6 linked regions of the Homo sapiens genome follow. The protein of the gene in region 1 purifies or fractionates together with the protein of each later gene. This does not show direct contact. Each region holds a gene or a part of one and is shown in the gene's direction. Other genes may lie near its edges. The genes, in order: MYH1, PPARA, RIMS1, SMYD2, TPM1 and ATF1.

The links.
Region 2: the proteins of MYH1 (region 1) and PPARA purify together in Homo sapiens (co-immunoprecipitation; one large-scale study listed by IntAct). This does not show direct contact.
Region 3: the proteins of MYH1 (region 1) and RIMS1 fractionate together in Homo sapiens (co-fractionation; one large-scale study listed by BioGRID). This does not show direct contact.
Region 4: the proteins of MYH1 (region 1) and SMYD2 purify together in Homo sapiens (co-immunoprecipitation; one large-scale study listed by IntAct). This does not show direct contact.
Region 5: the proteins of MYH1 (region 1) and TPM1 fractionate together in Homo sapiens (co-fractionation; one large-scale study listed by BioGRID). This does not show direct contact.
Region 6: the proteins of MYH1 (region 1) and ATF1 purify together in Homo sapiens (co-immunoprecipitation; one large-scale study listed by IntAct). This does not show direct contact.

What each region holds. Positions count from the first base shown.
Region 1 is NC_000017.11:10,500,579-10,505,438, reverse strand, and holds part of MYH1 (myosin-1), read left to right. Parts: coding exon 1-51; intron 52-139; coding exon 140-276; intron 277-373; coding exon 374-629; intron 630-2,190; coding exon 2,191-2,433; intron 2,434-2,524; coding exon 2,525-2,701; intron 2,702-3,527; coding exon 3,528-3,673; intron 3,674-3,754; coding exon 3,755-3,845; intron 3,846-3,939; coding exon 3,940-4,329; intron 4,330-4,686; coding exon 4,687-4,813; intron 4,814-4,860. UniProt on the Homo sapiens protein: Required for normal hearing. It plays a role in cochlear amplification of auditory stimuli, likely through the positive regulation of prestin (SLC26A5) activity and outer hair cell (OHC) electromotility.
Region 2 is NC_000022.11:46,229,938-46,234,797, forward strand, and holds part of PPARA (peroxisome proliferator-activated receptor alpha), read left to right. Parts: intron 1-1,854; coding exon 1,855-2,302; intron 2,303-4,860. UniProt on the Homo sapiens protein: Ligand-activated transcription factor. Key regulator of lipid metabolism. Activated by the endogenous ligand 1-palmitoyl-2-oleoyl-sn-glycerol-3-phosphocholine (16:0/18:1-GPC). Activated by oleylethanolamide, a naturally occurring lipid that regulates satiety.
Region 3 is NC_000006.12:72,180,050-72,184,909, forward strand, and holds part of RIMS1 (regulating synaptic membrane exocytosis protein 1), read left to right. Parts: intron 1-2,234; coding exon 2,235-3,100; intron 3,101-4,860. UniProt on the Homo sapiens protein: Rab effector involved in exocytosis. May act as scaffold protein that regulates neurotransmitter release at the active zone.
Region 4 is NC_000001.11:214,311,754-214,316,613, forward strand, and holds part of SMYD2 (N-lysine methyltransferase SMYD2), read left to right. Parts: intron 1-3,008; coding exon 3,009-3,119; intron 3,120-4,860. UniProt on the Homo sapiens protein: Protein-lysine N-methyltransferase that methylates both histones and non-histone proteins, including p53/TP53 and RB1. Specifically trimethylates histone H3 'Lys-4' (H3K4me3) in vivo. The activity requires interaction with HSP90alpha.
Region 5 is NC_000015.10:63,054,887-63,059,746, forward strand, and holds part of TPM1 (tropomyosin alpha-1 chain), read left to right. Parts: intron 1-2,098; coding exon 2,099-2,232; intron 2,233-4,676; coding exon 4,677-4,794; intron 4,795-4,860. UniProt on the Homo sapiens protein: Binds to actin filaments in muscle and non-muscle cells. Plays a central role, in association with the troponin complex, in the calcium dependent regulation of vertebrate striated muscle contraction.
Region 6 is NC_000012.12:50,769,869-50,774,728, forward strand, and holds part of ATF1 (cyclic AMP-dependent transcription factor ATF-1), read left to right. Parts: intron 1-3,580; exon of another isoform or gene 3,581-4,860.

The sequences.
Region 1 (4,860 bases):
CTGGGGTCCATTGACATTGACCACACCCAGTATAAATTTGGTCACACCAAGGTAATATTCTGTAAATCCTACCTGATGCTATTCCTGTCCCTTTGAACTTTATGTAAATTTTCTGATCTGAAATTCTTCCCACACATAGGTCTTTTTCAAAGCTGGTCTTCTGGGGCTCCTAGAGGAGATGCGAGATGAGAAGCTGGCCCAGCTGATTACCCGAACCCAGGCCATGTGCAGAGGGTTCTTGGCAAGAGTGGAGTACCAGAAAATGGTGGAAAGAAGGTATTAATAAGAATTCTTTACTTAACCTCATCATCTTAGGTGTTTTAATTCTGCTTCTTATTATAATCTGATTTGGACATTTCTGTTCCTATGACAGAGAGTCCATCTTCTGCATCCAGTACAATGTCCGTGCCTTCATGAATGTGAAGCACTGGCCCTGGATGAAGCTGTATTTCAAGATCAAACCCCTCCTCAAAAGTGCAGAGACAGAGAAGGAGATGGCCAACATGAAGGAAGAATTTGAGAAAACCAAAGAAGAGCTGGCTAAGACCGAGGCAAAAAGGAAAGAGCTGGAAGAAAAAATGGTTACTCTGATGCAAGAAAAAAATGACTTGCAACTCCAGGTTCAAGCTGTGAGTATCCCGAAGTCATTTCCTGCAATCTGATGCTAAAACTTCAGCTCAGTGGTCACTAAGGAGAGATCTAGATTCTACCAAATAAGGGACAGATTATGAATCTTTAATAATCCACAACTCCTTAGAATGTTCTATAGAATTCCCTATACAATATTACTAAAAATCACTGTGGTAGGATTCTTTGATGTCAAGAAGGGAAAAATAAAAGCATTTTTCCTTCCCCTCTGTTGTTTTCTACAGCAGAATGTGAACAGGAAATAAAGTGAGCTTTGCTCCCTAAATTCTCCCTACTGAAAAATGCAAATAAGAGCTGTGAAAAAGAAAAATATTGTCAGTGAAGAGGAAGGAGACTTTGATGAAAACACATTAACTTGAAATCAATATTCTGAGTTTTGTATCTACAATCCCCGAGCAACTTTGTGCTCAACTTTATTTTTAGAAACTTTTAGTACCTGAAAGAGTAGGATTATGGCAAGAATAATGGCAATGCTTTCTGTAAGGATAATGGCAATGCCTTCCACAGATAATGTCTATTTTTATGCAAAGTATGAGAGATAGGGTTGATATTCTTATTCTAATGTCCCAGTAACTATCCAGAGGCTTGGAGAGAAATATTTGATCAAAAGCCACTATCTAACCCATTTTTGTAACACAAATAACAAGACAGTTCAATTGCTGCCACCAAAACCAACAGCAGAAACATTAAAAGTTACCATCCCAGTTCTCTGAATTCAGAAAGGGAATTGACTAGTCCCATTGTGCCTACAAGTTTGGGACACATATTTAGAAAATCTAAAGTATGATGAATTGCAAATACCTAGGTTGGTACTGTGACTTTCCTGTACTTTGTATAGATCAGGGTTTTCCACATTGAGGAGTGGTTCATCGTGCCTTCAAGAAACAGGAGATAATCTATCCAAGAATACTCCTCTCCTTTGAGGATAGTATTATAAAACTTCTGTTTAACAATATTCTATCAACTATCCACTAATAAATATTGGGTGAAGTCCCGGACAGGGATGTAAGTTTGAATGAGAGACATGGTCCTTCCCTCACAGTTTATCTCAACTCCTATTTCTTCTTATGAGAAATATGCTTGCTACTTCTCTAAGCATCACCTTGAACATGTTCCATTCCCTTTGTCTACTCTGTCACTGGATGACATTTCTTCCTGTTAAGGCACTTTTCTGATAGTACCCTTCTCTCCCAGCAACCTGCTAGAAACCCAATCCTTTTGTCTATTGGTTTTTCATATATTGAATGCTCCTGAAAATAAATATTAAATAAAGAAAATTGGCTGACCCGAAATTATATACCAACATATTATATATGTTATAACAAATATAATTGTAACATAATTTCACCAGGAACTATGACTTAAGTTCCTTTTTTTATTACCGGACTCATAAGTGCCCAATATTTACTGAATGGTAGAAAGCTAATAAAAATTAACCTGAAGGCTTAAAACAATTTACTTGTTTGGTTTCAAAATATTAATAAAATCTGAAAATGTCTAGGAATTTTCATAAAATCTAAAATATCTATTGCCTCTTCTCAGGAAGCTGACAGCTTGGCTGATGCAGAGGAAAGGTGTGACCAGCTAATCAAAACCAAAATCCAGCTAGAAGCCAAAATCAAAGAGGTGACTGAGAGAGCTGAGGATGAGGAAGAGATCAATGCTGAGCTGACAGCCAAGAAGAGGAAACTGGAGGATGAATGTTCAGAACTCAAGAAAGACATTGATGACCTTGAGCTGACACTGGCCAAGGTTGAGAAGGAGAAACATGCCACAGAAAACAAGGTATCAATCATATTCTACAGTACTGTATAGAGGTTCTGCCACCCAACAAAGGTGCTTTAGAGCAACTAAGCTGCTTTCTTCACCTTTGTAGGTGAAAAACCTCACAGAAGAGATGGCGGGTCTGGATGAAACCATTGCTAAGCTGACCAAGGAGAAGAAGGCTCTCCAGGAGGCCCACCAGCAGACCCTGGATGACCTGCAGGCAGAGGAGGACAAAGTCAACACCCTGACCAAAGCTAAAATCAAACTTGAACAACAAGTGGATGATGTAAGCCTAACATTATATAAAAATGATTTTTTAAATTTTGTAACAAACTAAGTAAGCATAAGTTTGTGTCGTTATGATATAGTGAGTACTTATCAAGTGCCTCCTATGAATGAGGAATATGGAACATCATCCCTATTACAAGGTCTAAGATGTACACACAATAAAGTTTTTAAAATCAATAAAGAAAGTTAACTGTGAATAATAGACAATACGGGTAAAAAGAATTGATGGAAAGGAAGGTTAATGTGTTCACAAAGAAAAGCTATACAAGCAAAACAGGTCTTTCGCTGGGCTTGAAAGACAAGGGGCTATGTGCAAAAAGAAAGAAGAGGGAGGGTGTTCTAAGAAGGCAGCATAGCAGCAGCAAAGAAGTTGTAATGATCAATAAGGTTTTCTCTCACAGAAACAAAGGACACTCAGAATTAGGAATGTGGAAGATAAATTTGGCTTTAAACATGATCTGATATCTAATAGAGAACCCACTGAAAATGCCTGAGTAAGGGAGGCGTTAAAAAAGTTCATGGTTTGGAAGTATTAGCATGGTGTCCATCCCAGCTGGAAAAGTATTGGATTCCAGTGGGGAGATGCAGAAGGCATAATGTCTCACTAGTAACTTATTGTAACAACGTGACAAAGAGGCACATTTTACCTTTTAAACGATGACTTTTTCGACTAGGTAAATACCAAGGAGAATGGAATCAATGGGACAAATCTGCCTAATTCATAGAAAAATAGTTTGCTGCATAGATATAATGTTTAAAAATTTCATCTGGGACAAAAGGTGCTACCATTCTAAGAACCATATTCATGGATTATTAACTTTTAGCTTGAAGGATCTTTGGAACAAGAAAAGAAAATCCGGATGGATCTAGAAAGAGCAAAGAGAAAACTAGAGGGAGACCTAAAATTGGCTCAAGAATCCACAATGGATATAGAAAATGACAAACAACAACTTGATGAAAAGCTTAAAAAGTAAGCAGTTTTAGGTCAACAGTTTTGTGGGGAAATTACTCTTAATATTTCTGAGACTGACATAAAGGGCTTTTCTAATAGGAAAGAGTTTGAAATGAGCGGTCTGCAAAGCAAGATTGAAGATGAACAAGCCCTTGGTATGCAGCTGCAGAAGAAAATCAAGGAGTTACAAGTACGTTAAATGATTTTCGCCAGGCTAATTTAACATCGAAAAGTTACTGACACCAAGAAGTTGAGTTCGTATTAATATTTTTCACCATTCCCAGGCCCGCATTGAGGAGCTGGAGGAGGAAATCGAGGCAGAGCGGGCCTCCCGGGCCAAAGCAGAGAAGCAGCGCTCTGATCTCTCCCGGGAGCTGGAGGAGATCAGCGAGAGGCTGGAAGAAGCCGGTGGGGCCACCTCAGCCCAGATTGAGATGAACAAGAAGCGGGAGGCTGAGTTCCAGAAAATGCGCAGGGACCTGGAGGAGGCCACCCTACAGCATGAAGCCACGGCGGCCACCCTGAGGAAGAAGCATGCAGATAGTGTGGCCGAGCTTGGGGAGCAGATTGACAACCTGCAGCGAGTGAAGCAGAAGCTGGAGAAGGAGAAGAGTGAGATGAAGATGGAGATCGATGACCTTGCTAGTAACATGGAGACTGTCTCCAAAGCCAAGGTACAATCAACACTTCACATTGATTATTTGGTTTTTTGTTTTTCCCTTTAGCACAAATATGATTTGTATCTCAAAAACGTCTCATGAACTAAATCAGGCACCCTTTTTCTCATATCACGTATAGTACAACTTAGTAAAGTAGTTAGATTAACAAGTAATTCAGTGGCTGTATGCTTGGACTATGTATCTTATTAGTCTTTCCATTCACTATCTAAGACCTTTGCTGGTTTTGTTTGTAAAGATAGTTTCTTCTCAAAATAAATGAGTACTGCAGCTCATATGGAATGTTTAGATTACTGAAACTTTCTTTGGTCCAACTACTTACTTGAGATGCCTTCTACCACTTTTTGAATGCAGGGAAACCTTGAAAAGATGTGCCGCGCTCTAGAAGATCAACTGAGTGAAATTAAGACCAAGGAAGAGGAGCAGCAGCGGCTGATCAATGACCTCACAGCACAGAGAGCGCGCCTGCAAACAGAATCAGGTGGGCCATGTACCAGTACTGACCTTGAATGACAAATTCACCCTGCA
Region 2 (4,860 bases), on another chromosome or scaffold:
TGAGTCCAGAAACAGGAAACACTTCAGGCTGTGTGTCAGAAGCATTGTCAGTGGTTGTGTTTTGCCCACTGGCAGGGGGCATTCTTTAAATCCTGGGATGCTTCTGCGCTTTGGGCTCCACTGTTCCAGCAGTGATTAGAAATAACGCTGTAGGCCGGGCGCGGTGGCTCACCCCTGTAATCCCAGCACTTTGGGAGGCTGAGGTGGGCAGATTACCTGAGGTCAGGAGTGCGACACCAGCCTGACCAACATGGTGTAACCCCGTCTCTACTAAAAATACAAAATTAGCTGGGCGTGGTGGCGCATGCCTGTAATCCCAGCTACTCAGAAGGCTGAGGCGGGAGAATCGCTTGAACCTGGGAGGCCGAGGTTGCAGTGAGCCGAGATTGTGCCATTGCACTCCAGCCTGGGCAACAAGAGCAAAACTCTGTCTCAAAAAAAAAAGAAATAACACCTTAGCCCACTGCATTATTGACCTGTGTCTGCATGAGCTGTGGACCACATTATAATCAGAGAGATCTCTCAGATGTTGTCACTTTCCTGCTCTACCCGCAGATGTAAATTTCAGCCAACAGCAGTGTTTGTGCTCATTTTCCCCGGCTCTCCCACACATGTAATCCCTTCTGAGCATGTTGGCTTCAAATAATATGGCCAGCCACCTCTTCCACCACGAGATCTTCAGGAAATGGCAGGCCACTGGGTTTACATGCAGATGGCATGGGAGCACACAAGGCACGGCTGTGGGGAGTTGGCACTTGCTCCAGAATATGGAGCACCGAGTGAAGGTTTCAGTTTCCTGCACTGAGAGAAACAAGGGCATTCCGAGGCTTTTCCACTTTATCCCTAAAGAGTTTCACAACGCTTGTTTGCCGATTTCTACATAGATGCCACCTTTCTGAGTTGTATGTATTTACATGCCAAATGTATTCATTGAGCAGCGTTAAATAATGGTGTTCACCCCTAAAGTGCATATACTGGTAAAATTAAGAATGATCGTAATTAAGCCTCTTGCAATAGTCATTAGTTCAGAGAATATTTAAGAATATTAAAGGTGCTTTGCTAATGTCCTCGTTAGTTTTGTTTTGACAAAATCAGTACTTCAGTTTCTTGTTTCTTTTTTTTTTGAGACGGAGTCTTACTCTCGCTCTGTCGCCCAGACTGGAGACTGGAGTGCAGTGGCACGATCTTGGCTCACTGCAACGTCCACCTCCCAGGTTCAAGCGATTCTCCTGCCTCAGCCTCCCGAGTAGCTGGGGTTACAGGCACACACTATGCCTGGCTAATTTTTTTTTTTTTTTTGAGACGGAGTCTCGCTCTGTCACCCAGGCTGGAGTGCAGTGGCGCAATGTCGGCTCACTGCAAGCTCTGCCTCCTGGGTTCACGCCATTCTCCTGCCTCAGCCTCCCGAGTAGCTGGGACTACAGGCGCCCGCCACCACACCCAGCTAATTTTTTTGTATTTTTAGTAGAGACGGGGTTTCACCATGCTGGCCAGGCTGGTCTCGAACTCTTGACCTCAGGTAAACCACCCACCTCAGCCTCCCAAAGTTCTGGGATTACAGGCGTGAGCCACCATGCCCAGCCCAGTACTTCAGTTTCTTAGCGATGAAATCCACCCAATGTCAGGCGATGACTATTATTATTTTACTGATTTATACTGTTTGTTCTCTATTAATGTCTTATTTTCCCCAACCGATTTTGAAGTTGAGTAAGGACTATGTTCCGCGGGTATCTTGAGTCCTCTGAGGCACTGAGCTTGGTGATTTGGACGCAGGAGCTGCTCATTAGTGAGCTGATAGCTGGGAGCATAGCGCATCCCACATCACCTGACTTACCTTGGTGTCCTCCTTTGTAGCCTTTTGTCATACATGATATGGAGACACTGTGTATGGCTGAGAAGACGCTGGTGGCCAAGCTGGTGGCCAATGGCATCCAGAACAAGGAGGCGGAGGTCCGCATCTTTCACTGCTGCCAGTGCACGTCAGTGGAGACCGTCACGGAGCTCACGGAATTCGCCAAGGCCATCCCAGGCTTCGCAAACTTGGACCTGAACGATCAAGTGACATTGCTAAAATACGGAGTTTATGAGGCCATATTCGCCATGCTGTCTTCTGTGATGAACAAAGACGGGATGCTGGTAGCGTATGGAAATGGGTTTATAACTCGTGAATTCCTAAAAAGCCTAAGGAAACCGTTCTGTGATATCATGGAACCCAAGTTTGATTTTGCCATGAAGTTCAATGCACTGGAACTGGATGACAGTGATATCTCCCTTTTTGTGGCTGCTATCATTTGCTGTGGAGGTGAGTGGTTGATTTAATCTGCTGGTATCATGTCACTGACAGGCTCCTGTCTTGAAAAATTTGACAATGGGAAATCCAGTACCAGCCTGAGCTGTTCCAGTGGAGGGGACACTCACATGGTGGGAAGACGTCTGACCCCCAGTCACTGCTGAGAATTCAGTGGGAATTATAACAATATTGTATAATATTATAGTATATATTGTTATTATCTATAAATACATATTTAATATTATGTAAATGTATGACATTTTAATCATAATATTAGCCAGGTGTGGGGGTGCACACCTTTAGTCCCAGCTACTTACTCAGTAGACTGAGGCAAAAGGATCTCTTGAGCCCAGGAGTTCAGGTTGCAATGAGTTATGAATGCACCACTGCACTCTAGCCTGGGCAACAGAACAAGACCTATTTCTTTAAAAAAAAATTATATATTTTGCACAAATATATATATAGAGAAAAAGAGGTCGGACATGGGCCTGTAATCCCAGCCCTTTGGGAGGCTGAGGTGGGTGGATCACTTGAGCCCAGGAGGTTGAGACCAGCCTGGGCAACATGGCAAGACCCCGTCTCTACAAAAAAAAAAATAGAAAAAATTAGTCAAGTATGGTGGCATGTACCTGTAGTCCCAGCTACTTGAGAGGCTGAGGTGGGAGGATCACTTAAGCCCAGGAGACAAAGGTTGCAGTGAGCCAAGGTCACGCCACCACACTCCAGCCTGGGCGACGAAGAATGACCCTGTCTCAAAAAAAAAAAAAAAAAAAATTATACACACACACACACACACACATTTCGTTTATATTATATCTAATATTATAAACAGATATAATTTATATATTATGATATTCCTGTATATATTATATAATGATGTTGTATTCATATTATAGACAATATTGTATGAAGTGCTATACAGATGTCAGTATAGTTGCTGTCACAGTTGGTTATGTTGATGAAAAGTATATTTCCTAATGCAAAATATAATATCAGTCAGCAGCCAAGTGGCAGTGACTGCAAGGTTTGCTTTGCCCGAGGAAGCAGATCCCAGGGAAGGCCGATCTGGTCCTCTCTGTGGAAGCTGGCTCTGCAGCCTCCACATTTTTGGCTCGGTGTCACGTTCCTTTAAATAGCCCCATCTCAGGTCTAGGAAGGTCATCCACCTACTGCAAACTCGGCTGACCTTACCCAGGGTTGGTGGAGACAGATGGGGTCTCCCACACTGCCTGCAGCCATACTGCGCCTGGGGGATTGACTCACTGTCAGCATGGAGCTGACTCAGCCCTACCAGCCGTGCCCGTTACTGTGTGGCTGGGCACAAGTCAGATGAAGGAAGTCCTTGCGCTCTGGCATAAAGTGTACAAAGACAAAGCAGTTATGCATAATTTGTCCTTTAGTATGGTCAGGATGTAGCATTGTGGGTAAAATGCAGTTGCAGAACTATTTATATGTAGCATGATCACAGTTTTATAAAGGAAATTATAATCCTATATCAATCCTATGTATATAGAAAAATGTCCAGTGAGATATATGTTAAACCTATTATGGTGGGATTAAAATTATGAGGGGGGATTTCTATTTTTCAAAAGATTCCTCCTTTTTTTTTTTTTTGAGACAGAGTCTCCGTCTGTCACCCTGGCTGGAGTGCAGTGGCACGATCTCAGGTCACTGCAACTTCCGCCTCCTGGGTTCAAGTGATTCGCCTGCCTCAGCCTCCTGAGTAGCTGAGATTACAGGAACATGCCAGCACACCTGGCTAATTTTTGTATTTTTAGTAAAGATGGGGTTTCACCATATTGGCCAGGCTGGTCTCAAACTCCTGACCCCGGGTGACCCACCCACCTCGGCCTCCCAAAGTGCTGGGATTACAGGCATGAGCCACTGCACCCGGCAATAATTCCTCTCTTTAGAGACTTAATAGTTATAGCCCCAGCCACTCTGGAGGCCGAGGCAGGAGGATTGCTTGAGCCTAGGAGTTCCAGTCCAGCCTAAGCAACAGAGCAAGACCCCATCACTAAAACAATACAAAAACAAGAATTTTAGAAATAAAAACTTAATAATTACATTTACAACCAAAAACAATGAAGATGTTTAAATCCTCATCACTAGCAACCCTGTTAAGAATCATAGTAATGACTGGGTCTGTAAGGGAGCACCGCCTGCTGAACATGGCTCAGGGCAGTATTTTCTGGACCAAGAATCAGGTCTCATGCTTTGAGACTGTCCCAGGATGTCTAGTGCCAGCTACCCCAGGCAGGTCATCTGGTGTGAATGTTGACTCTTCCTGCACCAAGTCTCAGACCTGCCCCACCCTCCTCCCCACTCTGGGTCTCCTGATCTTGGCTCACTGCAATCTCCGTCTCCCAGGTTCAAGCGATTCTCCCACCTCAGCCTCCCGAGTATCTGGGATTACAGGCGTGAGCCACCGTGCCTGGCCTACAAAACCTAGTTCTAACACAATCACTCCTTAAATATGGTGGAACACTTGAAGCTTGATATCTAGTTTGGATTCAAAAGCTTCATTTCCCATATTATGCAAAACTGGTGGTTGTGATCTCCAGAATGTA
Region 3 (4,860 bases), on another chromosome or scaffold:
GCCTGAGGGGCGTTGTCTATCTCTAGAATGTATTCCTTAGGAGACCTTTGTTGAAAGCATTTCTTTCATATCATGCACAGATGTAAACATGAACTAAGTCACCCAGCTGAGCTACCAACTTCCAATGATGAACTCAGAAAAGCTCTTAGATCATGTTTCACTTATAAACCTAGCCCTTTAATTAAAAGTGTGCTCTGAGAGGATGTGATGGGGGAATCTGACCTATCAGAAAGTATGTGGACACATCAGAGAAGCCTTCTTTAAGGGTATTTCTTTTATGCTGAGCTCTAAAGAGTGACTTTGAAATTAACCAGGAGAAGGGAAGGATGGGTGCTCCAGGTATCTGCACAGGCACATGGCCTGAAGGAACAAGCCCAACGTGAGGGCCTCCTAAAGGATAGCTGCTGGCTACAGTGCAAGTAGCAGAGGCAATGTGGAGGAGAAAAGGCTGGTGAGGTGGTGAAGGGACAGGTTACATTTTATAGCTTTTATTGTAGGTGAAAGGGAAGCCACTGAATATTTAAACAGGGACGAATATGATCAGATTATTTACTTTGATTGATTCATTCAAAAATGTATTCATGGGCAAACATGAAGCTATGCACTGGGAAAAAGTGTTGACAAAGAAGACAGAGCCCTTATCTTCATGAGGCTCATGATTTTGGGGCCAGGACTTTTGTTAGCACCTAGACTGGGCTTATTGTTTTTGTATGTGTAACCATTACTTGGAGAAAGGAGGCTCCAAGGAAAGCTTTTGAACCCCTTTTCAAGCAAAGCCCATACAGTAAAAGATCAAGGACTTCAAAGTTAAATAGGTCTGGATTCTAGTCCTGGCTCTGCCACAATAGGCAGTAAAAACTCACTTGCAGGGTTGTGGCAGGTATTAAAAGAGAACATGTGTTCCCAAGCTGGCACATAGTAGGCTTTCAGTGAATGTAGCTATTATTCAAGCCAGTAGTCATTGTGTATTTACTACAGATAAACACTGTGCCAGGAACCAGAGGGCATAAAGATGATTAGAACATACATGGTCCCTTTTCTGACAAATCCTAGGGAAGAGACCACACACTATTCTAGGGAAGACAGACACCTAGGTAATTAACAAGGATGCTAATTTGATCAAAGCTAGGCAATATGTATAGTATTTTGAGAGCCCTAGGAAAGAGGAAGTGACTTCTCAATTAAGCTTTGTAAGATACTCAGGAGTTGTAGGGGAGCTACACAGCGTATAAGAGGGCAGTACAAGAGAATGAGTGTTACTAAGCTATTTGGAGAAAGGATAGAAAGGACACCAGAGATATCTCAGGGAACGTAGAATTAATAGCATTTGGTGACAAATTGTTGTGGGAGAAGAAGAGACAAAAATACTGAAGCTGCAGTTTGGAACTGGTTGGAAGATGATATCTTTAAATAAGATAGAGAATTTGGAGCTGTAAAGTTTCTAAAGAGAAAAGAGTTCTGTTTTTGACATATAGTGAAAAACTATAAAAATTTCAAGAACAAGGGCTGAATAGATACTTTTTGTTCTGACTTTTTAGTTAAAATTTGAAGAAGATTGATAGGGACAAATAACTTTACTAATGATATAAATTCACAGGAAAGCAATGAGGAATTGGGAAGTACAGAAGCAGGAAGAGAGGTGGCCAGTGTAAAGAGCTGGGCAACTTCAGGGAGAAGCAAGATTGAAAGAGACACTGTTTATTTGTTTTAAATTACTGAAGAATTCTTGACCGTATTTTGTACTGTCAAGGAGTTAGAAACAGAAAATTAAAGGTAGAGATGAGAAAAAGTATAATTAGTAGAGCAAAGAATCAGAGACACTGGAGAACTCCTTCCATTTGCATGACACTCTACCCTTTCATAAAACATCTTCACAGATGGTGTCTCTAATCCTCACATGAACCTTGCAAGGTAAGTATTTTTCAGCATTTCAAGAAAAGTAAATTGATTCAATGTAAACTTCTAACAAGAGCAACTATGCTTCAATGAGCTGCTAAATGTAGTACAAGCATGACACTCTTATGAAAACTATATTTGGTAATAATTAATATGTGTTCCCATTAGATCCCTTACCTTGTAAAATTCCAACACCCTTACAGTTCCACCTTCAGATCCAAATCCCTATAACTAATTATTGTAACTGAAATGATTTAAGACTGGAATGAGAAGAAAACATGTTTTTTATGTCTAGTCTTTATAAATTGCTCTCCTTGACGTTCCTTTGTATATCATAGAAAGAAGACCCCAGGGCTTTCCGAGCAGAATGGCAAAGGAGCCCTGAAGAGCGAGCGGAAACGCGTGCCAAAGACCTCAGCGCAGCCCGTGGAGGGGGCCGTCGAAGAACGGGAGCGCAAAGAAAGGCGGGAAAGCCGAAGGCTTGAGAAAGGGCGATCACAGGATTACCCAGACACGCCGGAAAAACGGGATGAGGGCAAAGCGGCGGATGAGGAAAAGCAAAGAAAAGAGGAGGATTATCAGACCAGGTACCGCAGCGACCCGAACCTAGCTCGGTACCCGGTGAAACCGCCGCCTGAGGAGCAGCAGATGCGCATGCACGCCCGGGTGTCCCGCGCCAGGCACGAGCGGCGCCACAGCGACGTGGCGCTCCCGCGCACCGAGGCGGGCGCGGCGCTGCCGGAGGGCAAGGCCGGCAAACGCGCGCCGGCGGCAGCCAGGGCCTCGCCGCCGGACTCGCCGCGGGCTTACTCGGCTGAGAGAACTGCGGAGACCAGGGCGCCGGGCGCCAAGCAGCTAACGAACCACAGCCCGCCGGCGCCCAGACATGGGCCGGTTCCCGCAGAAGCCCCGGAGCTCAAAGCCCAGGAGCCCCTCAGGAAGCAGAGCCGCCTGGACCCCAGCTCGGCGGTCCTCATGCGGAAGGCCAAGCGCGAGAAGGTGGAGACCATGCTGCGGAACGACTCTTTGAGCTCAGACCAGTCCGAGTCGGTGCGGCCGTCCCCGCCCAAGCCGCACCGGTCCAAGAGAGGCGGCAAGAAGCGGCAGATGTCGGTGAGCAGCTCTGAGGAGGAGGGCGTGTCGACGCCCGAGTACACCAGCTGCGAGGACGTGGAGCTGGAGAGCGAGAGCGTCAGCGAGAAAGGTAAGGGGGCGGCGCCGGCCGTGCGGGGACTTCAGCCAAGTGAAGAGGCGTGGGCAGAGGTGCAGGTGCTAGGCTAGTTGCTGGGTTCAGCATTGAGGCTGGGAATGCTCACAGATAAGATAGCGTTACCGCCAGTGGAAGGTCTTATTTTTATTAATTTAATTTTATTGATTGATTTGTGGGATTTTAAAACACAACAAGCTCCAAACTTAGGCTACAAAAGTTCTTGGTGATTTTGCATTCTGTCATTCTGGTAAATTTGGTATGCAGTCTAATATTTTTAAGATATTATTTTAGAGTGGATTTATTATTCTGTGAAAAACAATTTGTTTGCTAGAAAATGAAAATTATGCCTTATAAAGGAAGTAGACATTAAAAAAAAACCACATCAGTTACGTAATATTACAGTTGCAAAGGTAGTTTTTTTTTTTTTCAAACTTCAAATTAACCTTTCTCACAATTTGTGAACAGATTACAGTTTATTCTTGGACAATACGGATTTGAACTGCATGGGTCCACTTATATATGGATGTTTTTTCAATAAATATACTGGATTTTTTTTTTGAGAATTGCAGCAATTTTAAAAACTTGTGGACGAACCGGGTAGCCTGGCAATATTTTAATAAAATAAGAAAAAGTTAGGTATGTCATGAATGCATACTATATATATAGATACTAGTCTGTTTTATCATTTGCTATCATAAAATGTACATGAATCTATTATAAAAAGTTAAAAATGATAAAACCTTAAACACACACTTATAGACTACGTGGCGCCATTTGCAGTGGGAAGAAATGTAAATATGTAAACATGCGGTATTAAATCATAGCTGCATGAAATTAACTGTAGTGCATACTGTATTACTGTAATAATTTCCTTAGCCTCTTCCAGTGATTTTAGTGTTGCGAGCACCACTTTAAAATGCCCTGTGATGCTTATCATCTCCCTTTGAGCAGTTTCTTTCTCCAGTAAATTGCGTGGTATCTTGTGGTTCTCACGTATTTTTTGTGATGTTTAGTGCAATACCATTAACTTTGAATAATACCATGAGACCCATACAGAGTGTCATTAGTGACACTAGAAGTGCTCCCAAGAAGCAACGTCATGACATTACAAGAAAAAGTTGAATTGCTTGATGTGTACCGCAGATTGAGGTCTGCAGCTGCAGTTGCCCACCATTTCAAGATAAATTCAACCAGTGTAAGGACTATTGTTGAAAAAGAAATTTGTGACGCTGTTGCTGCAGCTACGTCAGCAGGAGCAAAACCCGTGCACTTTTTGTGAAAAACTTTTATCTTGCCTTAAAAATGCAGCTTTTATGTGGCTGCAGGATTGCTATAAAAATGTGTATCTATAGACTCTAATATTAGGAAAAAGCAAAGTCGTCATATAACAAAGCAGAAGGATAGTCAAGGACCTAAAGCTAGAGAATTTAATGCCGGAAAAGGATGGCTTGATCATTTAAGGAAGAGGTTTGGCTTTTAAAAAATGTCAAAAGTAGAAGCAGCTTCTGTGGACCAGCAGAGACGAGTTCTAGATGCCATTAAGAAAATTATTGAGGAGAAAGGATATGTGCCTGAACAGGTTTTTAATGCAAGGTGCTTTATTCTGGGAAAAAAAAAAAAGTGCCAAAAAGGACATTTAGTAGTAAGGAAGAGAAGCAAGCACTAGTATTTAAGGCAGGAAGGGTTAGGCTAGCTCTACTGTTTTGTGCAAATGCAGTAAGGGCTGCCTCTATGTATAAAACTATTAACCCCCT
Region 4 (4,860 bases), on another chromosome or scaffold:
TTAACTTCCCAGGAATTCATTGTAGTTGCTAAACACCAAGGCACCACCTGCAGTTCAGAAAACAACAGCTTGCAGGCCCGTTAGGGACAGAGATTATGTCTTGGAGTTTTCTTGGAGTTGCTGGAGTCAGAGTGGGCATTTGTCTATAGTTGTTAATGATCCATCTGTCCCCAGCTGGTAGGTCCCCATATCCTCTCAGGTATCCCGAGGGTCATCTCTGTCTTTTCCTCTTTGCTCTGCAGCTGAGGAGGGAGCTGATTAGTCTGCAGGGAGACAGACCCACCTGTTCCCACCTCTTCGCCTCATCACCATGCTCTCATTTTAGGCTTTGGCTAAAAACAGATTCTCTTCTCCCTTGTGCATATCTTGTCATTTCTTTTCCTCCCTGCTCTTAGTTATATTTGGCGCGGCATTATTTAACTCTGCAGAACATCTTGGCCCAGAACTTGAGCTAAGGGGCTGCACCATAGACTGCATTAAATCATTAAGTGACATTATGTGCTTCCTTCTTGGGGGATCAGTGTGGAGGGAAGCGGGTAGGGAGATATCTTCATTCCTTCAACAACTATATTGAGTGCCTACTAAATGCCAGGCACTGTTGTCAGTTCTGGGGTTACAGCTATGAACAAAACAAAATTTCTTTATTTTCCTGGGGAGAGACAGATACTAAACCAAACAACTAATAAATATATAATATGCTCAGGTGGTGAGAAGTACTAAGAAGCAGCAGAAAGCAAGGAAAGGAAGAATGATGGGGAAGTGCTCTTTCTGACAGGGTGATTGTGGCAGGTATCTTGAGAAGGTGACATTCCAGCAGCGGCTGGAGAGGAGGGAGGGAGTCACATGGATATCCAGGGGAGGAGAGTGCTAGCCACAAAACAGAGCAAGTGCGAAGGGCCTTGAGGCAGGTACATGGCTCCAGGCGCAGCCAGGACACTTCTGTGGCTAAGTGCAGTGAGGCAGGTGAGAGTACGGTGGGGGATGATGGGCTGGGGTGGTGCAGGGACGCTCCCATCACGTGTGGCCTCCTAGGTCACCTTTAGCGCTTGGCCTTTTGCCTGGATGAGAAAAGCCATTAGGTTTTGAGCTGAGGACTGGCCTGATCCGAGTTTTGTCAACAGAATCCCTCAGGCTGCTCTCTGGAACCTAGTCCATGGGAGCAAGGACAGAAGCGGGCATCCAGTTAGAAGGCAGTGGCAGGACATTAGTCATGAGAGATGTTGGGGCTGCAGCCGGGTAGAAAGGTTGTGGAGCTAAGAAGTGATCAGATTCCAGGCAGAGACAGAGGATTTGCCAGAACTGACTGAATGTGGAGTGTGAGTGAGAGAGCAGCGTCAAGGATGACTCTAGCTTTCTGGCCTGAGCATTTATTTTTATTTTTGAGACAGAATCTCACACTGTTGCCCAGGCTGGAGTGTAGCGGTGCACTCTCGGCTCACTGCAACCTCTGCCTCCTGGGTTCAAGCGATTCTCCTGCCTCAGCCTCCTGAGTAGCTGGGACTGCAGGCACATGCCACCACACTTGGCTAATTTTTTTATTTTTAGTAGAGATGGGGTTTTATCACGTTGGCCAGGCCAATCATAAACTCCTGACCTCGGGTGATCCGCCCATGTCAGCCTCCCTGCCCTGAGCATTTATGGCCATTTTCTGAGCTAGGGAAGGCCAAGGACAGAGCAGGACAGTACCCAATTCCATCGTGAAAGAGACAGTGTGTAAGGGCTTCCATCAGTATACAACGTGCTCTGATATTTCCCATCTAAAAAAAAAAAAAAGTCCCCCGCAACTTTTCACTACTCTAAGCTGTGTCTCCTTTCATTTTTTCTTGAATCTGCTCCCTGTCATTTCTTACCCCATCATCCCACCAAAACTTGTTTTTATGAAAATCATCAAGCTTCCATGATTCCAAATCACATTCTCCGTCCTCTCACACTAAGCCTATCTCCAGCACTGGCATCATCATTTACTCCCTAGTCCTCAAAGTACTTGCTTCCCTCAGCCTCCAAAACACCATGGTGTCCTTCTCTCAATGCCTTCCCCATCTCAAGTGATGGCGCCTCCACCCTTCCAGCAGCAAATATCCTTCATCCCTCTACCCGGGGCAGGGAAACTTCAGGGCGTATGATAGAAAGAATACTACTGTTAGGCCAGGCACGGTGGCTCACGCCTGTAATCCCTGCACTTTGGGAGGCCGAAGCAGGTGGATCATGAGGTTAAGAGATCAAGACTATCCTGGCCAACATCTTGAAACCCCGTCTCTACTAAAAATACAAAAATTAGCCGGGCGTAGTGGCACACACCTGTAATCTCAGCTACTCAGGAGGCTGAGGCAGGAGAATCACTTGAACCCGGGAGGCAGAGGTTGCAGTGAGTCGAGATCGCGCCACTGCACTGCAGCCTGGCAACAGAGCGAGACTCTGTCTCAAAAAAAAAAAAGGAAAGAAAGAATACTACTGTTTTATCCAGTGCATCTTTGGGAAGTCCTAACTATTCCTAAATCTTTCCAGTGGTTGCCCTTCATGAAACCCTCATTTGTGCTTTTTAAAAAGTCGCCTGTAAAAGGGACTCATTGCTGTGTAAGTCAACTCTCCATTATTTGCCCTGACGTGAGAACAAAGCCAGAGCGGAACTGTGAGGCAACAAAGCCAAATCAATGGCTGATACTCAAATTGCTCCCTCTGCAATTTGACAGCTTGCACAGATGATGGAAAGATGTATGTGTTGTTTAGAATAATGAGGGGCTGCAGAAAGCCATGAGGTGCTTGAGGAAAAAACACAAAGTAGATCTTCTCATCCCAACAAGCTTGACCCAGGCCTGAGTGAAGGTCATACAATCCTGCCTATCTTAAAGGATGTTTTTATCTCTAGCTTTTGTGAGCATCCTCGTGTTTTCCAAAAGGAAACATATTTTACTTGACCTTAACTAGGGGGACTCACTGCATCCTCTCCTCTCACACTTTATTCCAGTGTATGTGCTATTTTTTAATAATGTTTTTTTCAATCTTCCCAGAAAGAAGATTGGCCCATGCACAAGCTGGAATGTTCTCCCATGGTTGTTTTTGGGGAAAACTGGAATCCCTCGGAGACTGTAAGACTAACAGCAAGGATTCTGGCCAAACAGGTGAGGAAATGGGACAATGTTCAAGTGCATTTTATTTTGTTTTTCTTTTAAAGGTCAGAAAGATGAGTAACTGACCTTTGGTAACCATCTCTCGTTAAACATCCTTAGACTACATTTCCTATCATATCCATATGGACAGGGGTGGGGAAAATACTCCAGGCATAATCTAGTTAGTTGTGTGCCCTGTGCAATTAGGATGTTGCTTACCCTAGACCAGGAGCATAGCCACAGCTCTGAAATTCTGAGCTGTTTTCATGACAGGTTTACATGGAAATACGTGACATGAAAAGCCTGACCTCAAATAATTAGAGCTTCCTAGGGAACCAGATTGGTCTGAGCAGCTTTGAGATTTTCCTCTCTTTCCATTCTGACATAAAGAGTGTACTCTGTTCCCCTTTCCTGTGTAATATTCTGCTCTTTCTTGGCTCCTTTCTTGCCTGTGCATAGGCAGGCAAAGAATTGGATGGAACAGCCTTGACTATGACATGTGCAAAGAAGAGAAAGAGTGGAAAAGTAGAAATAGAGGCAAGGGAGAGGGGAAGAGAGTTAAAAAAAAAAAGTGAAGAAGAAGGAAAGAAAGAGGTGCCCTTGATGGAAACAGATGATAGTCATCAATGGCTTTCTCCAGAAGTGATGCCAACTCTGACTATTCTGTGGTGGGCAGGACTATGCAAACTTACGCTCAAAGAGTGAGGAAGCTGAGAGACAGAAGAAAGAAGCTGACAAATCCAGTTTATTAGAAACATTTACTAGGACTTATGAACTGAAGCCATGTCTATGTCTTGGGCGGCAGCAAGACAAGATGGTGGATCCCTGCACCATTACCCACCAGAGCCAGGGCTTATATACCATAGGGAAGAAATGTGTACAGCAGTTACAAGGAAAGGCAAGGATGCTATGCAAATCTGCCTGAGAGCAAGATTTGTGCTCAAGATTGTATTGACCTAAGGCAGGATTTAAGGTAGCCATAGACAAAGTAGAAATCTTAGAAGCATTCCCAGAGCAGGAGTTAACCAGAAATCAACATGGTATATCAGCATCCAAGATGAAATTGCTTTAGCCACCGTACTGACTGTTCTCCGCCTGGTCTGGTTCATTCTTGCTGATTGCATAATAATTAGACACCTAATCTTCGAAGGGCCAAACTAAAAAGAGGACAGGAAAATGCCATAGAACTTGTCCTTGTGATCCAATGAAATAGGCAGTGTGGGGCTTAGAAGGCATATGTCCAGGCTGTGGAGGTCTTGCTCCTCAGTGCTGTCAGAGAAGTTGGTGGCAGGGCCTCTGGACTATAAATCTTTTAAAGCTGAAATTTTGGCTGGGCATAGTGGCTCATACCTGTAATCTTAGCACTTTGGGAGGCCAAGGCAGAAGGATTGTTTGAATCCAGGAGTTCGAGACCAGCCTTGGCAACAAAGTGAGACCCATTCTCTATAATAAATTTTAAAAATTAAAAAAATTTCCCAGGTGTGGTGGTATACACCTGTGGTCCCAGCTATTCTGGAGGCTGAGGCAGGAGAATTACTGGAACCCGGAACTTCAAGGCTGCAGTGAGCTGTGATTGTGCCACCATACTCCATCCAGCCTGAGCAACAAAGTAAATGAGACTCTGTCTCTAAAAATGAAAAAAAAAAACAAACTGAAATTTCATCCACTTCTCCTGTATACCTACCAGCCCTCCTCCACCCTTAAAATTTTTCTATTTTTTAATCTAAGCCAAATGTGATGGAAATGATTAGCA
Region 5 (4,860 bases), on another chromosome or scaffold:
TTTTTGCTTCCGCTTTGAGTCTCCCCCCCACCCTCAAAAGGAATAGAATTTTACTGGAAAATGAAAATATAGAAAAGTGAAGAAATCTTACCTGACCCAAAAGTATATCCTTAATATATACATCCTTCCAGTAATAGTAATAAAAAAAAAAAGCCTAATGGTTTTTAAAAGACACTTCCCTATAATTGAGAGATTTGTTATCCTATTACCCTCACCCTTCAATACACACACACACCAGAAACAACAGTCATCTGCCAGTAATTCCTAGCTGGGTCCATTTACCAGCTGTGCACTGATAATGATTTACTTTGTAGGCAGTACAGTTGTAAATGCTCTTCCTCTGATTTATTTCACATTTGCCCTGCTCCCTGCCTCCATCAACCAATTACTACATTTTTGTCAAGATAAAAGTGTATTTACATGTTTTTATAGAGTCCTTCACCGTGGTTGGAGATGCCCTACTCACCTCTCTTCCCAGATAAAACTTGGCATTTAAAATCTTACAAATCTAGGTGAGCAAAGAGCTGAAGGTTCTCAGATTCCTTTGATTAAAGACTATGACCACAGTTTCTAACTACATTTGCATTTCCAACTCTGTATTGTGGATCCATAAGCTGAGAACGTTGCTTTTATTAAAATTAGGTTGGTTTTACTCATCTTACTGAGCCCATACTCTGTGCAGAGAACTGTGAGTTCTCTGGATGTGAGCAGCTTACAGTTCAATGACAAAGACAGGGCTGTGTGTAGAGAAATTTGTTATCCTATTACCATGGGTCCCTAAGTGTGTATTGTAATTTCTAGAAAACTCCTAAGTGTTCTGAAAACCCCACCACCCCTTAGTGAACATACATTCAAAGTGGATGAGGATATTTTACCTGATTAGTAAATTCCATCTCCCACTTCCATGCACAATATTTAAACAGCCACCAGTGCAAGTGTGTATAATGGACCATCATAGTCTTATAAGTGTTCTGAGGCTCATAGCAACAATTTCTTATGACAGGAAAAAAATCATTGCCTCTCAAAGAAACCAACATTTTATTTCAGTGACAGATACCAAGTAAAAACAGTACTTGTATTATTTTTCTTTTTAGGAGTTTGATACTTTTCTTGTATTAACCTTGACTTCAAAGAAAAATCATAGGCTTACATCAAAAACACTTGGGAAATTTGTCTTGGCTCTGTTCCAATGAGGCCAGTTATTCTAAAAGGGGTTACTGGATTGTGTTGGGCCTTCATGTGGTGTGTATTTTAGAACCACTGAATTTTAAACTATTTAAGTTCCTTTGTAAGGATCCTATGATAAAGTGGCTTGAAGGAAAGAGTTGAGTGAAACTCTTGAGTCCGATTTCTGGCTGTACTGCTATTGTCTTACATGGCTGAGCCTGGGTAAGTCTTGTCTCAGTTCACACTTCAGGCCCCCAGTGAGTGAGGTGGCCGTGATGACGCTCTTGTTTAACAGGCAAGTAAAGCCAGGGTGTTGAACTCTACGGAAGTGGGCCGGGCGCAGTGGCTCACGCCTGTAATCCCAGCACTTTGAGAGGCCAAGGCAGGTGGATAAGGAGGTCAGGAGATTGAGACCATCCTGGCTAACACGGTGAAACCCCGTCTCTACTAAAAATACAAAAAAATTAGCCGGGCGTTGTGGCGGGCGCCTGTAGTCCCAACTACTCGGGAGGCTGAGGCAGGAGAATGGCGTGAATCCAGGAGGCGGAGTTTGCAGTGAGCTGAGATCGTGCCACTGCACCCCAGCCTGGGTGATAGAGCGAGACCCTGTCTCAAAAACAAAACAAAACAAAACAAAAAAATCTACGGAAGAAAGGAACCATGTGAAAGAGCGTTTGCTAATGATCTGTCTGTCTGATGAGAATTGTGTGTATAGATTTGTGTATACACAAATATGGATGTTCACTGTATAAATCAATGTGTAAATGTGTCCGAGAACTCCAGAGTTGATGAGGGCTTGTAATGCACTTAAAGGTAGCTCACCACAAGACAGTCTTCCTATCTGAAATCAGCATTGCAGTCCCAGCCATTTCCTGAAGCTACCACCCTCACTTTCTCCCCAACTCTGAAATGCTTTTCACTCTCTACCTAGGCTGAAGCCGACGTAGCTTCTCTGAACAGACGCATCCAGCTGGTTGAGGAAGAGTTGGATCGTGCCCAGGAGCGTCTGGCAACAGCTTTGCAGAAGCTGGAGGAAGCTGAGAAGGCAGCAGATGAGAGTGAGAGGTGAGAATGCCTCATCAGCCATCTTTTGCAGCTGCCTTTCCTGGTGGAATAAACCGGAGGGCTCCTGTGATCTTTGAGGTTTAAGAATTTTTCAGTCCCCTGGTGGTGGGATCATTTCCTCTATTGATCCCAGGTATAACTCGGTTGGTTTTGTTCATTTAGCATTAGTGAAACACCTACTATGTCCAAAGCACTGTCCTAAGCCCTAAGGTTACAAAGAAGAAGATGATCTTGTTCCTGCCCTTACAGAACTCACCATCTAATGAGGGAGACAGACATGTAAAGGAGAAATGTCAGGGATACAAGTTGGCCCTTTCACTCCTACTGACCACAGAGCAATTGTGCATTTTTTAAAGTGTAACTTTATTTTATAATATACAAGGAGGCTTAGGTGTAAATAAAGGAACTGTGGACTATCAGTTGTCAAAATAGCTTAACAAATAGGTGGAAGAAAAAACACAAAGCAGAAACATGGTCTGCAAAAGTAAAATATTTTGGACTTGGTCTTAGTAATATACACAACACACATGCACACAAATAGTCAGATGCTCGTGTGTTCTGAGCCCACCTCCACTGTAATCTGGCTGTAGCTGAATTATTACTCAGATTCAGCTTTGTGGTAGTAAAGGAAAGCATGGTTCGTATAGACCAGCACAGCCTTGTGTGGTCTAAAAGGCATTTTCCCTTAAGCTCAACTGTTGGAAGTAAGGATTTGCCATATTGCATAGAAGTACTTCAAGAGAGACTCCATGAGGTGAGAGAGCGTTCTGCCGCTTGAGGGATGGCATAGCATGAAGGGGCTCAGAGCACTGAATGTGTATCTGTCTGTGCTGTGACCTGGGCAAGTGAATGCAGTCAGTCATCTTGTCCATTTCTTACTCTTTGAAGTGACCCTACCACTAGGTACCAGGTATAAAGAGTGATTTCAGACTTTAGGATTAAAGAAGATTTTTAGCTAAACTTTTTAGGCCATTATTCACCGCTGCTTAGTGTTTCTTCGCTAACCAAGCATTTTGGACTTCTTTAAGATGACTAAGCATCTTACAGTGTACGCATAAGAGCAGTTTTGTGGCTGACTTCTTTCTGAAATATACTTGTTAGTGTACCTTAAAGGCAGTCTGGTAATGTTAGACTTCGGAGTAAAGGGGACTTGGGGATCATTTAGTCCCTTAGTTTTACAAATGAGAAAAGTAGGGCTCAGAGGCTGATGTGACTTGCACCAAGGCTCACAGCATATTTGTGGCTAAGCCAAGACTCCGACCCAGATCTCCTCAACTGTATTCCAATGCTTCATCAAAAGATAGTGGGCCAGATGTGGTGGCTCACACCTGTAATCCCAGCACTTTAGGGGGCCGAGGCGGGCAGATCACTTGAGGCCAGGGATTCGAGACCAGCCTGGCTAACGTGGCATAACCCCTAAATCTACTAAAAAATAGAAAACTTAGCCAGGCGTGGTGGTGCACACCTGTAATCCCAGCTACTCGGGAGGCTGAGGCAGAAGAATCGCTTGAACCCAGTAGGTGGAGGTTGCAGTGAGCCAAGATCACACCACCGCACTCCAACCTGGGTGACAGAGCGAGACTCTGTCTCAAAAAATAAAAATAAAAAAATAGTGGTTCACTTATACTGCCTACTTAAATTTTGATAAATGAATTCCATTTTACATGACTTGTTATTCCATATATCTGTAAAATATCATAGGTCATTTAGTATTTTTCTGAAACATTACACCACGCTATAGGACCCTAATATACACCATGCCATAGGACCCTAATACACTCAGTGTAGAGGACAGTGTCAGGCCTGTCTCCCAGCATTGCTGTCATGAAAGGGTTCCATTATAGGTAAAACTTAATTTGATGCATTCAGTTGAACCATAAGAAATTGCCATTATTACTTGTCTGAAATGGTCAAATATCAGCATTCTTTGTGGACTTAATAGTTTATTAAATCTAACATTAAGTCTAATATTTTTGTTTATGGGTGGCAGGGTAAGAAGATTCTTTGTAGAAAGAGGTATATAAAGATAAGTTTGATTTTGTTCTAGCTTTGGTTCATGTGCAAGCTGAGGCTTCCCACAGGAAAGGCAAGAAATCTCATTATCTTTTTAATAGTAAAGCATATTGGCTTTTCCGGTTTCATACTGCCAAGATTCAGACAGATTCCTGACGTGGTACCTTTCGTCATCATTAATGTTAGATGCCTGATAGTTTCATCAGTACTCAAAGTGAGAGAGTTCATTCACAGTGAACAGAGAGAAATGTGTCTCTTTTTTCCACCTTTAGCTCTGGAAATTGTTGTTTCCTGGTTTGGAAAATAAAAGTAGCTCTGTGCTCTATTTTGGTCTACCACTTACACTAAGCCTCACAAGCCACAGCAGTGCAGTGTGCATTTGGGAAGTTCAGCTCTAAATCTTGGGTTTTCTTGCTTGTCTTTCTTTTCAGAGGCATGAAAGTCATTGAGAGTCGAGCCCAAAAAGATGAAGAAAAAATGGAAATTCAGGAGATCCAACTGAAAGAGGCCAAGCACATTGCTGAAGATGCCGACCGCAAATATGAAGAGGTCAGATCCTGGGGCCCAAAGCCTTGTGGACACCCAGCAGTGGCCTTCAGGAAGCCAGGGAGCAAT
Region 6 (4,860 bases), on another chromosome or scaffold:
TTGTAACATTAGAATAGAGGAAACAACTTTCAGAACTCATGAAGAGCTAGAATGTTCATGAATATCAAATGAAACATGAGTTAATTGAATCAACTGAACCAATAGAAAACTGAAGTAATCTTTGATTAAAATGTTGCTGATCCTTTGTTTTGTTTTTCAGAGTCAAGGAAACTTTTCATTTGAGCTATTTACAGTTCATAGCAATTGAGTAAAGTATACTGCTGTGAACGAAATTTGGAACATATTTGTTTCTCTATATCAGATTTCTCCAGAATTTGGAAACTAGTTGTGAGTATTCTTAACTTATGGCAATGTAATTATTTGCATAAGTGCAATAAGAATCTGTTTTCTTTTGTAACAGAATACAATTGGAGAAAGTGGTTATTTTACCAAGGCTTTGACTGAAATGGTGTGCTTTTCTTTAAGGAATCAAACTTGACTTGTAGAGCCAATAAAAGCCCTTTGGGGAACTGGCCTCATACCTTGCCTACACAGTGCCTGTACAGGGTTTCTGACCTATGGTAAGTAAAGAATGTCACTTTCTCACCTGTCCAGGAGCCCCAAGTTATCTTGGGACCTCAAAAGGAGAGAAATTTACCCAAGTTATAGGTATTTAAGGGTACAAACCCATGTCAGGGCTTGGCTTTTAAAAAAGTCTTATCTGAGATTCCTTATGAAACAGAGTTCCATCAAAGCCAATTAAAAAGCCTATGTGAAAAATTATTATTCTTGCTGCACTTTATACAAACAATCAGGCCAAGTATAATAAAGCAAGTCAGTCTTACCATAATTTGTCTTTAGTAAAAATGGGAAACTGGAGAGAGAAATACTATGTTTCAAAAACTATGGTACACTTGTTATTAAATTCTGGTCTCATTAATTGTTTTTAAGTTTGTTTCTGCAATTTAGGCTAACCCTGCGTATTCTTGTAAACCAACCAGTAATCTCTAATTGTTGCTCAGAAGAAATAAGAGGGATGGGTAATTTAAAAATCTGGATCAGTATTCTGATTCTGGGCACATTACAATCAGCTAACAACCCGATATCAGCTTAGTTCCAGTGGTTGCCTGGTTCATGAAAAGTCTTCTAATTTAGTTTATTTGGAATAACTTTACTTATTTTGCTTTACTCTTTTTTTTTTCTTTCTTTCTTTTTGAGACAGAGTCTTGTTCTGTCGCCCAGGCTGGACTGCAGTGACACCATCTTGGCTCACTGCAGCCTCCGCCTCCTGGGTTCAAGTGATTCTCCTGCCTCAGCCTCCCAAGTAGCTAGAATTACAGGCACACATCACAACGCCCAGCTGACTTTTATATTTTTAGTAGAGATAGGGTTTCACCATGTTGGCCAGGCTGGCCTCGAACTCCTGACCTCAGGTAATCCACCTGCCTCGGCCTCCCAAAGTGCTGGATTACAGGTGTGAGCCACTGTACCCAGCCTATTTTGCTTTACTCTTGTGGAATATATTGCTGTTATACTTTTTGTGTAGGAATACAGGACAAGCTTACTGAACGTTTTCTTACTAATTTTCCAGATACCACCTTTTGTTGAAACTTGAGTTATGAATGAACCTTACCATACTGATGCTTTCTGACTGAGCTCCTTTTTACCCTGAATGCAAGAGACCCTCATAGGCAGGCAGGAATATCATTGCCCTATTTAGCCTGAAGAAGTTATAGAAGATGGATCTTCGTCCCTCTGCAACCCTTAGGATTAAGGGTTCTCTTAGACGGGGGGAAATGTCAGAGGCGTATGAACCAGAGCAACTCCATCTTAAACAGGCTGGGTAAAATGAGGCTAAAACCTACTGGCCTGCATTCCCAGATGATTAAGGCATTCTAAGTCACGGGATGAGATAGGAGGTCAGCACAAAATACAGGTCATAAAGACCTTGATGATAAAACAGTTGCAGTAAAGGAGCCGGCCAAAACCCACCAAAACCAAAATGGCCACGAGAGTGACCTCTGGTCGTCGTCACTGCTGTGCTCCCACCAGCGCCATGACAGTTCACAAATGCCATGGCAAAGTCAGGAAGTTACCCTGTATGGTTTAAAAAGGGGAGGCATGAAAAATCCACCCCTTGTTTAGCATATCATCGACAAATAACCATAAAAATGGACAACCAGCAGCCCTCGGGGCTGCTCTGTCTATGGAGTAGCCGTTCTTTTATTCCTTTACTTTCTTAATAAACTTGCTTTTACTTCACACTGTGGACTTGACCCATTATTTCTTGTGCGAGATCCAAGAACCCTCTGTTGGGGTCTGGATTGGGACCCTGTCCTGTAACAATAGCGTCTCACTGTGTTGCTCAGATTGGTCTCAAACTCCTGGGCTCAAGCGATCCTATCGCTTAAGGGTACAAAGTGTCTCCCAAAGTGCTGGGATTACAGGAATGAGCCATCGCACTTGGCTATATTTTTGCAAGTTTTGTTGTGCCTGAATTGCTCCATTCCTTTTTTTTTTTTTTTTTTCTTTTTTGAGATGGAGTTTCACTGTTGTTGCCCAGGCTGGAGTGCAATGGCATGGTCTCGGCTCACCGCAACCTACGCCTCCTGGATTTAAGCGATTCTCCTTCCTCAGCCTCCCAAGTAGCTGGGATTATAGGCATGTGCCACCACCCCTGGCTAATTTTGTAGTTTTAGTAGAGACCGAGTTTCACCATGTTGGTCAGGTTGGTCTCGAACTCCTGACCTCAAGTGATCCACCCACCTCGGCCTCCCAAAGTTCTGGGATTACAGGTGTGACCCACTGTGCCTGGCCAAGTTGTCCCATTTCTAAAGCTGGGGTGAGGTAACTGTCTAAATATATTTTTCTCTCTCTCTCTCTCTCTTTTATTTTAAGAGACGGGTGTCTCACTTTGTTACCCAGGCTGGAGTGCGCCTAGCCTTTTTTTTTCCCTTCAACTTTTAAGTTCCAGGGTACATGCACAGGATGTGCAGGTTTACTGCATAGGTAAACATGTGCCATGATGGTTTGCTGCACAGAACAACCCATCACCTAGGTATTAAGCGCAGCATCCATTAGCTGTTCTTCCTGATGCTCTCCCTTCCCCCACCGCACCCTCCTCCACAGGCCCCAGTGTGTGTTGTTCTCCCACCATGTGTCCCCGTGTTCTCACCATTCAGCTCCTACTTATAAGTGAGAACATGCAGTGTTTGATGTTCTGTTCCTTTGTTAGTTTGCTGAGGATAACAGCTTCCAGCTCCATCCATGACCCTGCAGAGGACATTATCTCTTTCCTTTTTATGGCTGCATAGTATTCCATGATATATATGTACATGTTCTTTATCCAGTCTCTCATTGATGGGCATATGGGTTGATTGCATGTCTTTGCTATTGTGAATAGTGCTGCAGTGAACATATGTGGGCATGTATCTTTATAATAGAATGATTTATATTCCTTTGGGTATATACCAATAATGGTATTGCTGGGTCAAATGGTATTTCTACCTGTAGGTCTTTGAGAAATTGCTGCACTGTCTTCCACAATGGTTGAACTAATTTACACTCCCACCAACAACGTAAAAGCATTCCTTATTCTCCAAACCTCGCCAACTGTTGACTTTTTAATTGCCATTCTTTTTTTTTTTTTTTTTTTTTTCGAGACAAAGTCTCATTCTATTGCCCAGGTTAGAGTGCAGTGGCACAATCTTGGCTCACTACAACCTCCGCCTCCTGGGCAGCCTCCCAAGTAGCTGGGACCACAGTCACCCACGATGCCAGCTATTTTTTTTTTTCTTGAGACTGAGTCTTGCTCTCTTGCCCACGTTGGAGTGCAGTGGTGCAATTTCTGTTCACTGCATCGTTTCCGCCTCCTGGGTTCAGGCGATTCTCCTGCCTCAGCCTTCCAAGTAGCTGGGACTACAGGTGCCCACCACCACGCCTGGCTAATTTTTGTATTTTTAGTAGAAATGGGGTTTTGCCATATTGGCCAGGCTGGTCTCAAGCTCCTGACCTCAAGTGATCTGCCCGCCTCGATCTCCCAAAGCGCTAGGATTACAGGTGTGAGTCACCATGCCAGGCCGGTAATCGCCATTTGACTGACGTGAGATGGTATCTCATTGCGGTTTTGATTTACATTTCTCTAATGATCAGTAATGTTGAGCTTAAAAAGCTCTTAGTTTATTGCCTAACATATAATGTTTCTTTCTTTGCAAGTTTTCTTTTCTTTTTTCTTTTTTTGGAGATGGAGTTTCACTCTTGTTGCCCAGGCTGGAGTGCATTGGCACTATCTCAGCTCACTGCAACCTTTGCTTCCTGGGTTCAAGCAATTCTCCTGCCTCAGCCTCCCGAGTAGCTGGAATTACAGGCATGTGCCACCATGCCTGGCTAATTTCTTTTTTATATTTAGTAGAGACGGGGTTTCTCCATGTTGGCCAGGCTGGTCTTGAACTCCTGACCTCAGGTGTTTCACCCACCTCGGCCTCCCAAAGTGTTGGGATTACAGGCGTGAGCCACCGCGCCCGGCTGCAAGTTTTCTTAAAAGGGCCCTGCCTTCCCTGACATTCTCTCTATGTCAGCAAGATCTCAGCCCACCATTTCTCAGTTCCTTCTATTCCCATTGATGGTGCTTTTGAAGCGGTGTTTCACTACTCCCTTGTTTCTGCCTGACTTTGGGTTATCTCCTGTTAAGCTTATATATGCTAACTGGGGGCTTACTTTATTTTTACAGAAAATGCATTCGTACATATAAAATTTATTCTGTATTGAACAAGTTTTTAACACATTGTTAATCTTAACCTTAATTTTAGAAATAATAGCTTTAAAAAAGTGAACAAATAAAGGTTACATTCTGATAACATCAGTAAAACAGTATGTACTGTTGTTTATGAGATGAAACTATAAAATTTTTATTTTGGAAAA